4 separate regions of the Homo sapiens genome follow, and all the other regions are linked to region 3. Evidence: fine-mapped expression QTL. A gene starts in region 3. Each other region holds a variant in brackets. All regions are shown on one strand. Distances are between the middles of the regions.

The links. PIP is the estimated chance that this variant, and not a neighbour inherited with it, causes the effect.
Region 1: its variant is fine-mapped to the expression of BAIAP2-DT in whole blood (TOPMed, PIP 0.94).
Region 2: its variant is fine-mapped to the expression of BAIAP2-DT in whole blood (INTERVAL, PIP above 0.99).
Region 4: its variant is fine-mapped to the expression of BAIAP2-DT in whole blood (TOPMed, PIP above 0.99).

What each region holds. Positions count from the first base shown.
Region 1 is chr17:81,072,504-81,075,003 of GRCh38, reverse strand. All of the region lies in intron 3 of BAIAP2 (BAR/IMD domain containing adaptor protein 2), which reads right to left. Among named protein-coding and RNA genes, the nearest start is that of BAIAP2, 39 kb to the right of the region's middle. The variant T/C (reference allele first, on the strand shown) is at 1,526.
Region 2 is chr17:81,005,092-81,007,843 of GRCh38, reverse strand. LOC124904077 (translation initiation factor IF-2-like) reads right to left here. Exons shown (of 1, transcript XM_047437254.1): 1 at 1-2,752. Among named protein-coding and RNA genes, the nearest start is that of CHMP6, 15 kb to the right of the region's middle. The variant A/G (reference allele first, on the strand shown) is at 1,551.
Region 3 is chr17:81,033,025-81,035,770 of GRCh38, reverse strand. It overlaps BAIAP2-DT (BAIAP2 divergent transcript), which reads left to right and starts at 1,052. Exons shown (of 2, transcript NR_026857.1): 1 at 1,052-1,206; 2 at 2,373-2,746. It overlaps BAIAP2 (BAR/IMD domain containing adaptor protein 2), which reads right to left and starts at 620. Exons shown (of 14, transcript NM_001144888.2): 1 at 463-620. The coding sequence starts at 516. RefSeq lists an enhancer at 1-803 and a silencer at 675-984.
Region 4 is chr17:80,991,898-80,994,397 of GRCh38, reverse strand. CHMP6 (charged multivesicular body protein 6) reads right to left here. Exons shown (of 8, transcript NM_024591.5): 1 at 2,417-2,500. The coding sequence starts at 2,479. Among named protein-coding and RNA genes, the nearest start is that of CHMP6, 1.3 kb to the right of the region's middle. RefSeq lists silencers at 1,855-2,044, 2,055-2,204, 2,335-2,500. The variant G/A (reference allele first, on the strand shown) is at 1,508.

The sequences.
Region 1 (2,500 bases), 39 kb before region 3:
GCCCATTCTTCCCTGTGGTTTAGAAAACAGAACTACATTATTCTCTTCCCAGCCCAACCTTTCCAACCTGGAGAGAAGTTGCAGGGATAGCAGAGCAAACACCCATTCACTTCGCCGAGGTTCCCTGGCGGTGTGCTTTGCCACAATCGCTTCACCACTCTTTCTGTGATGTATAGGTACACCCACATGCACTCACACGCATCCGTACATGCACACAGACACACAGGCACTTATGCATCCGTGCACACACACAGGCACTCACACGCATCTGTGCACGCACACAGACGCACAGACACGCATCCGTGCATGCACACACACAGGCACTCATACGCATCCGTGCACGCAGACACAGAGGCACTCAACGCATCCGTGCACGCACACAGGCACTCACGCATCCGTGCACGCACACACAGGCACTCACACATCCATGCACGCACACGAACAGGCACTCACACATCTGTGCACGTGCACACACACAGGCAACTCGTACGCATCCATGCACGCACAGACACAGGCATTCACATGTATCCGTGCATGCACACACACTGGCACTCACATGTATTTGTGCATACACACACGTACTCACACGCATCCATGCACGCACACCAGCACTCACGTATCCGTGCACGCACACACAGTGACACATGTACCAGTGCACGCACACTCACACGTATCCGTGCATGCACACACACCGGCACTCACACGTATCCATGCATGCACACAGACACACAGGCACTTTTTTCAGCCCCTTGAGACTCAACTGCAGACATCAGACAATGTGATGCTGCCCCTGCCCCCAATACTGCAGCTGTGTCCTAAGAGCAAGGACCTTCTCTGCCTCATCACGCCTCCATTGTGACACACAGGAAGGTTACCACAGACGCATCCTCCTCTCATCAACAGCACACACCATGCTCCTGAATGGCCCGACGATGCCATTGACAAGCTCCTCCCTGATCCAGGTTCTCATCAAGGGTCCCGCTGTGTTGCGTTGGCACGTGGCTTTAGTCTCTCTCATTTTAGGAAAACAAATCAGCATTCCACCTATTGGAAGACTGCTCCATAAGCACTTGAGACAAATAAGTGATACACGGGCTTAACCGTGAGCGACAAGGAACTGGCGCCTGCCAGCTCCCAGAGGACTCTCACCCTTCCTCTGGGGCGCTGGGCATCTTTAGTCCTTTAACCTAGAAGAGCCCCTCACACTTCGGCTTTCACAACAGTGACATTTTAAAGATTTGTGCCTTTTTTTACTCCAGAAAATACAACGTGTTCTTATAGTCTGCGAGTGACAAGAACCTGAGAGAGAGCGTGAATCTCAGAGACAGTGAAAAAGACTGGGGGAGGGAAGAGCCTGGGCCTCGGATGCTCTCAGCCCAGGGTTGGAGGCAGATCTGTGCAGATCGTCGTCCTCATCTGCGAGGGCAAACAGCAGCTCAGACCCTGCCCGAGGGTCCCCAAATGCTTGACTCCGAATCCCAAATGGAGCATAAACAGCATTTCATGATGATTTCAGTTAACACTC[T/C]GCTTAGTCAGTTAAAAGATCATTTCTACCAAAGCACGGCCCGAGACCAGCTTGGTGACTGCTCCCAGGAAGAAGGCTGGCGGCCCTGGCTGAGCCCAGGGTGAGGGGAGCAGCACAGCCTCCACCTCCCCACCCCGGCCTGGTACTCCTACAAACCAAGAGGTCCGAGTATCTGAAAGGCACCCCAGGTGGTAAAAGTTCTGAACTCCTGGGTAACCAAGAGACTGCACAGGAAGCTGGGACCACAGTGGTGGGGAAGGTCCGAGAAGGAGGCTTCGATCTCTGAGGAGCAGGGGTGCTGAGCCCTGGCATGGGGAGGGGCCGCTGGAGGGTCATGGGGACAGAAGGCCCCACGCCACCTACGAAGAGAGCTTCAACCCACTGGGGCCACCAGGGCCCCAGAGCAGGTACCCTCCACCTGCTACCTGTCTGCTGGCTGGGGGTCATCCTGGAGGTGACAGGCACCCAATACCCAGGGCTGTGGGAAGGGGCTCCAGGCCAGATGCCATTTTCTCATCAGGGAAGCGTGCATGTTTGTACCCGGCACCCGGGATTAAATCAGTAAGATGCAGGCTCATGACCACAGACAATGAGGTCCGTGAGGCCCACGGGACAGCCCGGCCCCAGAGCAAGGACTGGGGGTGTGTTCACCTGCTCAGCAGACAGCCCCACTCTGACACCAATGGCCCCTTCTCATACACCCACCTCCAAGCAGAGGACGCTGGGCGAAGAGGTCAGGAAAAATGAAAGAAAGGCAGAGCCTGCCAGACAGCGTCCGCCCGCCTGTGCTCAGAGTGGGAGGCGTGGCCTCTGGGCGCAGGTGTCTGCAAAGGTTGAAGACCCCACGGACTTGGGTCAGCACCTGCCAGAGCTCTCCCAGGAGGGTTAGCCTCCTTCTCGGACAGGGGCCAGGAATTCAGGAAATGCCAGGTTCGGGTGGGGACGTGGAGACGGCTGTGAGGCTGTGGCCCAAGT
Region 2 (2,752 bases), 28 kb after region 3:
ATTCTTCTGCCTCAGCCTCCCGAGTAGCTGGGACTACAGGTGCCCGCCACCACGCCCGGCTAATTTTTGTATTTTTAGTAGAGACGGGGTTTCACCTTGTTAGCCAGGATGGTCTCGATCTCCTGACCTCGTGATCCTCCCGCCTCGGCCTCCCAAAGTGCTGGGATTACAGGTGTTAGCCACCGCGCCCAGCCTAAGATACCCACTTCTAATCAACATTGTACTGAAGCTTTAACCAGGCACTTAGAGAAGGAAATGAAATTAAAGGCATCCAGGTTGGAAATTAAGAGGTAAACTATCTCTCTTTACAAGTGACCTCATCTTGTATATAAAAAGTCCTAAGGATTTCACTTAAAAAAACCCTAATAAACAAGTTCAGCAACATTGCAGGAGACAAGCTCAATATACAAAATCAGCTGTATTTCTGTATATTTAAGTGAATAATCTGAAATTGAAATTAAGAAGATTTCATTTACAATAGCACCAAAAATAAAACAGTAATAGGCTGAACAAAACAAGTATAAAATTTATACTCTGAAAACTACAAAACTTGGTTGAAAGAAAGTAAAGAAGACCAAAATAAATGGAAAGGCACCCTCAATCCACGGATCTGGACTTAATGTAGCGGAGACGGCGGCACTCTCCAAACACATCCACAGATTCTACGCAACTCCTATCAACATCTCACTTGGCTCCTCCGCAGAAACTGAAAAGCTTATCCTAAAAATTCACATGGAAATTTGAGGGTCCCAGAATAGCCAAAACAATCTTGAAAAAGAAGAACAAAGTTGGAGAACTCACACTTCCCAATTTCAAAGCTTACTACAAGGCTGCCATGAGGACGTAAGAATAGACACACAGAGCAATGGGACAGAACTGAGGGCTGGAAAGAAGCTCCTGGCTACAGGCAGCGGGTTTCCACACGGTGCCAAAACAATTACACGGAGAAAGGACTGTCTTTTTAACAAATGACGCTGGGACAGAAAAATACCCACATATAAAAGGAAGAAGTCAAGCCGGGCGCGGTGGCTCACGGCTGCAATCCCAGCACTTTGGGAGGCTGAGCCAGGCAGATCACCTGAGGTCAGGAGTTCAAGACCAGCCTCGCCAACAGAGTGAGACCCTGTCTCAAAAACATATTTATATAAATATAAATAAACTATAAAACTGTTAAGAAATCATAGACACAAATCTTCATGATCTTGGATTAAGCAGGGGTTCCTTAGCTATGACACCAAAAGCACAAGGAACAACAACAAAAATAAATTAGATTTCATCAAAATTAAAAACTTTTGTGCTTCAAGGGACACCATCAAAAAGGTTAACAAGACATCCCAAAGAATGGGTGAAAATATTTGCAAATCATGTGTCTAATAAGGGTCTAGTATCCCGAATAAAGTATTACAACTCAATAAAAAGACAACGAACCCAATTAAAAATAGGCAAATTATCTGAATAGACATTTCTCTAAGATATACAAATGGTCAGTAACACCCACGAAAAAATGCTCAACACCATTAGACACCAGAGAAATGCAGGTCAAAGCCACA[A/G]TGACGTACCACCTCATGCCTGCTAGAGTGGCTGTAATCAAAAAGAATATAAGAGTTGGTGAGGCTGTAGAGAGACCAGAACCATCGGCCACTGTGCAAAAGAGTGTGGTCGTTCATCCTATGGGTGAACATCCAGTTACCACACAACCCAGCAATTCCACTCCCAGGTGCAGACCCAAGAGCAGACGCTGTCCACACAGAAACCTGTATAGGAATGTGTTTGTTTTTAAAATTTGTTTATTTTTGTTTTATTTCTTTATATGAGACGGAGTCTTGCTCTGTTGCCAGGCTGGAGTGCAGTGGCGCAATCTCGGCTCACTGCAACCTCTGCCTCATGGGTTCAAGCGATTCTCCTGCCTCAGCCTCCAGAGTAGCTGGGACTACAGGTGTACACCACCACGCCTGGCTGATTTTTGTTTTTTTTTGAGTCTTTTTTTTTTTTTTTTTTTGAGACAGAGTCTTGCTCTGTCACCCAGGCTGCAAGTGCAATGGCATGATCTCGGCTCACTGCAACCTCTGCCTCCCAGGTTCAAGCGATTCTCCTGCCTCAGCCTCCCGAGTAGCTGGGACTACAGGCATGCGCCACCACGCCTGGCTAATTTTGTATTTTTAGTAGAAACGGGGTTTCTCCATGCTGGTCAGGCTGGTCTCAAACTCCTGATCTCAGGTAATCCACCCGCCTCGGCCTCCCAAAGTGCTAGGATTACAGACGTGAGCCACCTCAGCCGACCTTGTTATTTATTGTTTTTTGTTTGTTTTTTTTTTTTTTTTGGAGACAGAGTCTCGCACTGTCACCAGGGCTGCAGTCTGGAGTGCAGTGGCACGATCTCGGCTCACTGCAACCTCTGCCTCCGCCTCCCGGATTCAAGCCATTCTCTTGGCTCAGCCTCCCTAGTAGCTGGGATTACAGGCGCCCGCCACCATGCCCAGCTAATTTTTGTATTTTTAGTAGAGACGGGGTTTCACCATGTTGGCCAGGCTGGCCTCGAAATCCTGACCTCGTGATTCGCCTGCCTCGGCCTCCCAAAGTGTTGGGATTACGGGCGTGAGCCACCGCGCCCAGCCCCGTTTTTTTTTTTAAAAGACAGAGTCTTGCTCTGTCGCCCAGGATGGAGTCCAGTGGCATGATCAACTCTGCAGCCTCAAACTCCTGAGCTCGAGTGATCCTCCTGCCTCAGCCTCCTGAGCAGCTGGGATTATAG
Region 3 (2,746 bases):
TTCAGACAGCCCCCATGCCGTCCTGGCCGCCGCAACCCCTGGGCCCGCCGCCCCCGCCGCCCCGGCCCTGCCCGGGTGTGCTACGACCCCGACCGGTCCGAGGGCTTCCGGGGCCCGGCGCGCGGCTCCGTTCCCGCCGACGCCAAGGCGAGCGCGCGGGGGCCGAGCAGGGCCGTCGGAGCGGGGAGTGCTCCCCGGGCCTGGGGCTGGGGACTGACCGGGCCGCGGCGCGCATGGGATGGGGGGGCCCGGGCGGGGGTGGCCACCTGTGAGCGGCCGGCGCCGGGCTCACCACCCCAGCAGCCCGGGTCCCGGGTGGCCGCGCCGGGAAGACCCCCAAAGTCCCAGCCTCCTGGCCCGGCGCGCGGCCCCGGGGCCGCCCTGGTCGGGCTCGGGCGCGCGGGCGGCGCGCGACCCAGGCGCACACGGAGCGGGCTCAGCTCGGCGCCGGGGGGCGCTCACCTTATAGACATTTTCCGTGAGCCGGTGCATCTCCTCTGAGCGAGACAGAGACATGGTCCTGGGTCCCGGCTGCACCACAGACCGGAGCGGGGGACGCAAGCGGCGGCAGCAGCGGCGGTAACGGCAGCAGGACGGAGACGAAAGCGGACCCGAACCACAGAGCCCGGCGTCCGGCGGCGGCCACCTTTATAGCCGCCTCAGGCCCCGCCCCGCGGCAGTCCCCGCCCCTGCGTCCCGCCCCCGTTGCGCCCGCATCACCGCCCCCGACCACCCGCCCCCGCCCGGCGCTGCCGCTGCTAGGCAACCGCCAGGCCCCGCCCCCGCACCGCCCTTTCCATTGGTGGGTTCCGGAGAAGGGGGAGGGGGGCGGGATCGGAGGTGGGGCCTAGTGGCCGACTCCAGGCAGCGATTGGTCTGCGGCGGCGTCGATCCTGGGGGAGGAGAGGGGAGGCGCGGCGCGGGCTGGGGCCCTGGGAGCAGCCTGAGGGGGCCCGGGCAACAGCCGGGCTGGGGGCGGGGAGGCGGGGGCGGGGTGGCGCAGGAAGAAGGAGCAGAAGGTGCGGGGAGGAGAGCGGGGGGCGCCGGCGGCAGCGCGCGTGGAGGCGGCACTTCGCGAAGTGGCACTTCGGGGCGGGCGGCCCGCCGGGTCGCGGCCTGGCGCTGCGGGGCGGGGAGCGGCTCGGACGCAGGACGCCGCGGGCCGGGCTTACAGGTGGGAGAGGCCCCGACCCCGCCGCTTCGCAGGTAAGCCCGCCGGGCGGGCGGCGACCCCCCGGCCGGCCCCTCGGGGCAGAGAGGAGAACCCTGGGGGAGGGGGTGCTGCAGGAGGACCCTGGAGAGAGCTCGGCCCTGGAGTGGGGGACGACTTGGAGAAGGAGGATTTCGGGGGAGCATCGTGAGGAGAGGACTTGGAGGGAGGATCCTGCAGAAGGTGAACTCTGGGGAGGACCCCAGACAGGCAGACAGCGCTTGGGGGCTTGGGGCCGGGATTCTGGAGAGGGGAGGACCCTGGGAGAGGAGGGTTGGGGAAGAGGATCTTGGAGGAGGGCCCTGGGAAGGAGGATCTGGAGAGGGGACAGGGGAGTGTCCTGCTGGAAGGCCTGGGGACAGGGCGACCCTTAGGGACGGGGAGGACCCTCCTGCCGTCAGAAGATTCTCGTTGGAGGCAGTTTACTGAGAGAGAGAGGTCTCGGGAAGGAAGGGTCGAGGGCAGTAGGAAACGAGGGGCCCGGAGGACTCTCATGCGGTGGAAAGCCCTAGGGGGTGGGGGAACCTTGTAGGAGGAATGGAGGAGTCAGAGCTGCCTCCAATTTTTAGGAAGGGTCCTGCTTAAGGGTCCTCCCAAGGGGAGATTCTGCCGGGGAAGCTGGCCGAGTTGGCACACAGGTCTCCCGGTACAATTCCCGTGGAGAAATATTTACATAAATTAGGCTAACATAGAGGAATTATTTGTTTTACGTTGTGAAACACCAGATCTGAGCGTTTCCGTTTAATGAAACCTCTCAGTCTCCCAGCCTCCCATCCCTGCAAAATCATTCATTCATTCATTCCTTCAACGAGTCAGGCCCCTGGGGGAGACGCAGTTGTGCTGGCTGGCCGGCAGATCCCCAGACTGGCACGGGCTCAGGCCGATGGAAAGACCAGGGAAGTAAGATTCAGGAAGCATTGCCTCCCTCCCACCACAGCCCCGCGCCTCCTCTCCTCCGGCTGAATTTCCTTCCAGCTACTGGCCCTGGCTGCTTCCTTTTTCTTTATTGTCTCCAGTGTTTGGGGGTAGATCCCTGTGTATTTATTTTCTAGGATTCTTTTGGTGGTAAATGACAGAAAGCTCGCTCAAACTGGCCCTAACAAATGAGGGCATTTACCTGAAGGTAGGAGCATCTCCACTGACCCTGACCCCCTTCTTCTAGGCCAGCTTCCTGCTGTGTTCCCTGCACCCACCGATCTCACACGCAGCCCTAGGACAGACGTCCACTGGCCTGAGTTGGGTCTGGGGCCAACACGGAGCAGGTGGGGGTAGAGCAGCTCTGCTCGCCTGGAGGAAAGTTGAATGGCTGGAACCAAGATGACAGATGGAGGCTGGCAGGCAAACACGGGAGGCCTCCTCACTCCAAGAGGGGAGTCAGCCTGGGGACAGTTCTTCTCCAGGCCCTGCTGCTCCCATCAGCTGCAACACAGGAGAGGTAGGCTTCTCCGGAAAAGCTCCCACGGTCCTGGATCCCGCTCCACCTTCTAGAAGCTCCCAGCGTTACTTCCTGAGCTGGCCTGCACATCGTTGCGCTAC
Region 4 (2,500 bases), 41 kb after region 3:
CCACATCCTGCCACACAAGAGGCGGCCCCACCAGAGGGTCACCCGGACTCCACAGCCCATCACAGGGATGGGGAAGACCACCGTGGCATTGCTGTGGGTCCACCCTCGAGGCTGCCTGCCAGCGGTACAAGCACTCTAGGCTCAGGTCAGGGAGCAGCTGCCAGGACCTCAAAGGTTTGGACTCGGCTGGGCGCAGTGGCTCACGCCTGTAATCCCAGCACTTTGGGAGGCCGAGGCGGGCGGAGCACGAGGTCAGGAGATCGAGACCATCCTGGCTAACATGGTGAAACCCCGTCTCTACTAAAAATACATAAAAATATTAGCCGGGTGTGGTGGCGGTGCCTGTAGTCCCAGCTACCTGGGAGGCTGAGGCAGGAGAACAGCGTGAACCCGGGAGGCAGAGCTTGCAGTGAGCCGAGAGTATGCCACTGTGTTCCAGCCTGGGTGACAGAGTGAGACTCCATCTCAAAAAAAAAAAGTTCCGACTCAAGAACATGCAGGTGGCGAGTACCCAAGTGCCACCAGCCACACGGCCAGGACAGGGCTCAGACATCCCCCCGGCTTCTCTCCTTGCGCTTCAGCCGCATGAGATGCCTGTGGCTTCCCTGCCCCTTTGCCAACCATCCGGCTGCAGGGACACCCACTCGGCCCCGCTGACCGCCTCTCATCTGTGTGCCGTCCCAGAGAGGGCACTCGGCCACTGAGGAACTTCAGCCAGTCCTGCTCTATCAGGTCCTTAAGTTTTCCAAACGTCATCACTTCAGACAATGCTGAGCCCGTGCAGGCACAGGGATTATGGCCTTAAGGCAGGAGGCTGAGGAGAATTAGCTCAGTCAGGGCCTGTGTGCCTCTTTAAGACTCCGCATGGGAAGCCAGTGCTCCCTCTACCTGAGAGGGCTCATTCCCGGTTCCCTCCACCCACGGAGTCTCCCCCTCGCCGTGCCAAGGCCTGTGGGTCCTCTCGTTGCTACAGTGAAAGGTGCCCCCTGCCCAGCCCCACTGCTGGGGAGACCCAGGGGCCAAAGGCAGGCAGGTGTGGCCAGGCTGCCCCCCTGTAAAACAAGGTCTCAGTGGAGGGTCACAGGCCACGTGGGGAACACCTGTTATCCTAGAAAAACAGAAAAAAAAAAGCAATCATTTGTGCTAGTGTGTGCTAAGGATGCTGTTCCCAAGCACCCAAAATCCCAGGGAGACCTACGGCAGCCCGCAACACGGGTCTGCACAGCCGAGAGCCCACAGTGACCCTTGGCAAGTGGAAAGCTGTGCTTGAAGAGAAACCGGAGCTGAGTCCTTAAAGAGAGGGGAGGGAGTGCCTTGGGGCTGGCAGGGTAGGTGGAAGGTGGACGATGGAGGCTGGGTCCAGCTGTCTTGCAGGCAGCTCGGGACGGTGCCCAGCGCTGTGCCCATCTTCTCTAGGGACAAATGTGCCCGTTGTTTCTTTTCACAGCTTATGGACTCAGATGCCAACGTAAGATTCCCTCTTTCATTTACATTCGCTTCTCTTTTA[G/A]TATAAAATTAACCTATTTCTGTTGCACAAAATTTAGAAAAGAAAGCATCCGAAAAAGCTAGCCCTGCTTTCATTTCGGGGTCTCTTTCGTGACACGTTTATCTCGTTACAAAAATGGACTATTCTTAACCCGCCCTGTCCCTGACATGCCAGGCGATTCCTCCTCCTACAGAAGCTAACTTTCACATGGGAAAAGGCACCACCACCGGCCCGGCTGTGCCCCGGGGGGTCAGTCTGGAGTCGCCGCAAACAAACGCGCCAAACACGGTGGTCCCGTACCCAGGCGCTGCGGAAGCCCGGCAGGACCCCGGCAGGACCCCGGCAGGCGTTCGGCGCACCTGTCGGCCGCTCCTCGGACCAGGGCAGACTTCCTTCCAGTCCTGGCCTGGATGGGGTGAGGGAGAGGGGATGCCCCGCGCTGCCTCGCGAAGCCGGCAGCACCGCCGGGGCTCCGGCCCAGGGCACCAGGAGGCAAATGAGCCGCGGGACGGGGGCGGGGGCAGCGACTCCGGGAGAGCCGGGACCTGCTCCCGCGGGCCCAGAGCCAGGGAAAGCCCAGCGCCGCGCGGACCCCACGGACGGGCCGCCAGGCTGTGGCCGAGCCCCGAACGCCGGCGTCGAATCCCGCAGTCACCAGCCGCGCCCACCCCGGCGGGGCTCGCAGAGGCGGACGCGCGGGCCCCGGGGAAGACGGCAGCCACGGCGCCGCGCAGGAGACCCCGGCCCGAGGCCCCGCGGGCGAGGAGGGACGCAGGGCGGAGAGACCGAGGGGCCCGGCTGCGCGCTGCGCCTCAGTTTCCCCATCCGAACGCGGGGGGCCGAGGGCGCGGGGCTCTTCCGGCCCCGCCGCCCGCCCCGGCCCCGTCGCCTGTCCCGGCCCCAGCCCTGACCCCGGGCCCGGGCCCTCACCAGGATGGCCTTGTCCTGCTCCGTGACGCGGCTCTGCTTCTTGCGGCCGAACAGGTTACCCATGGCGGCGCCCGCCCCTGGCCC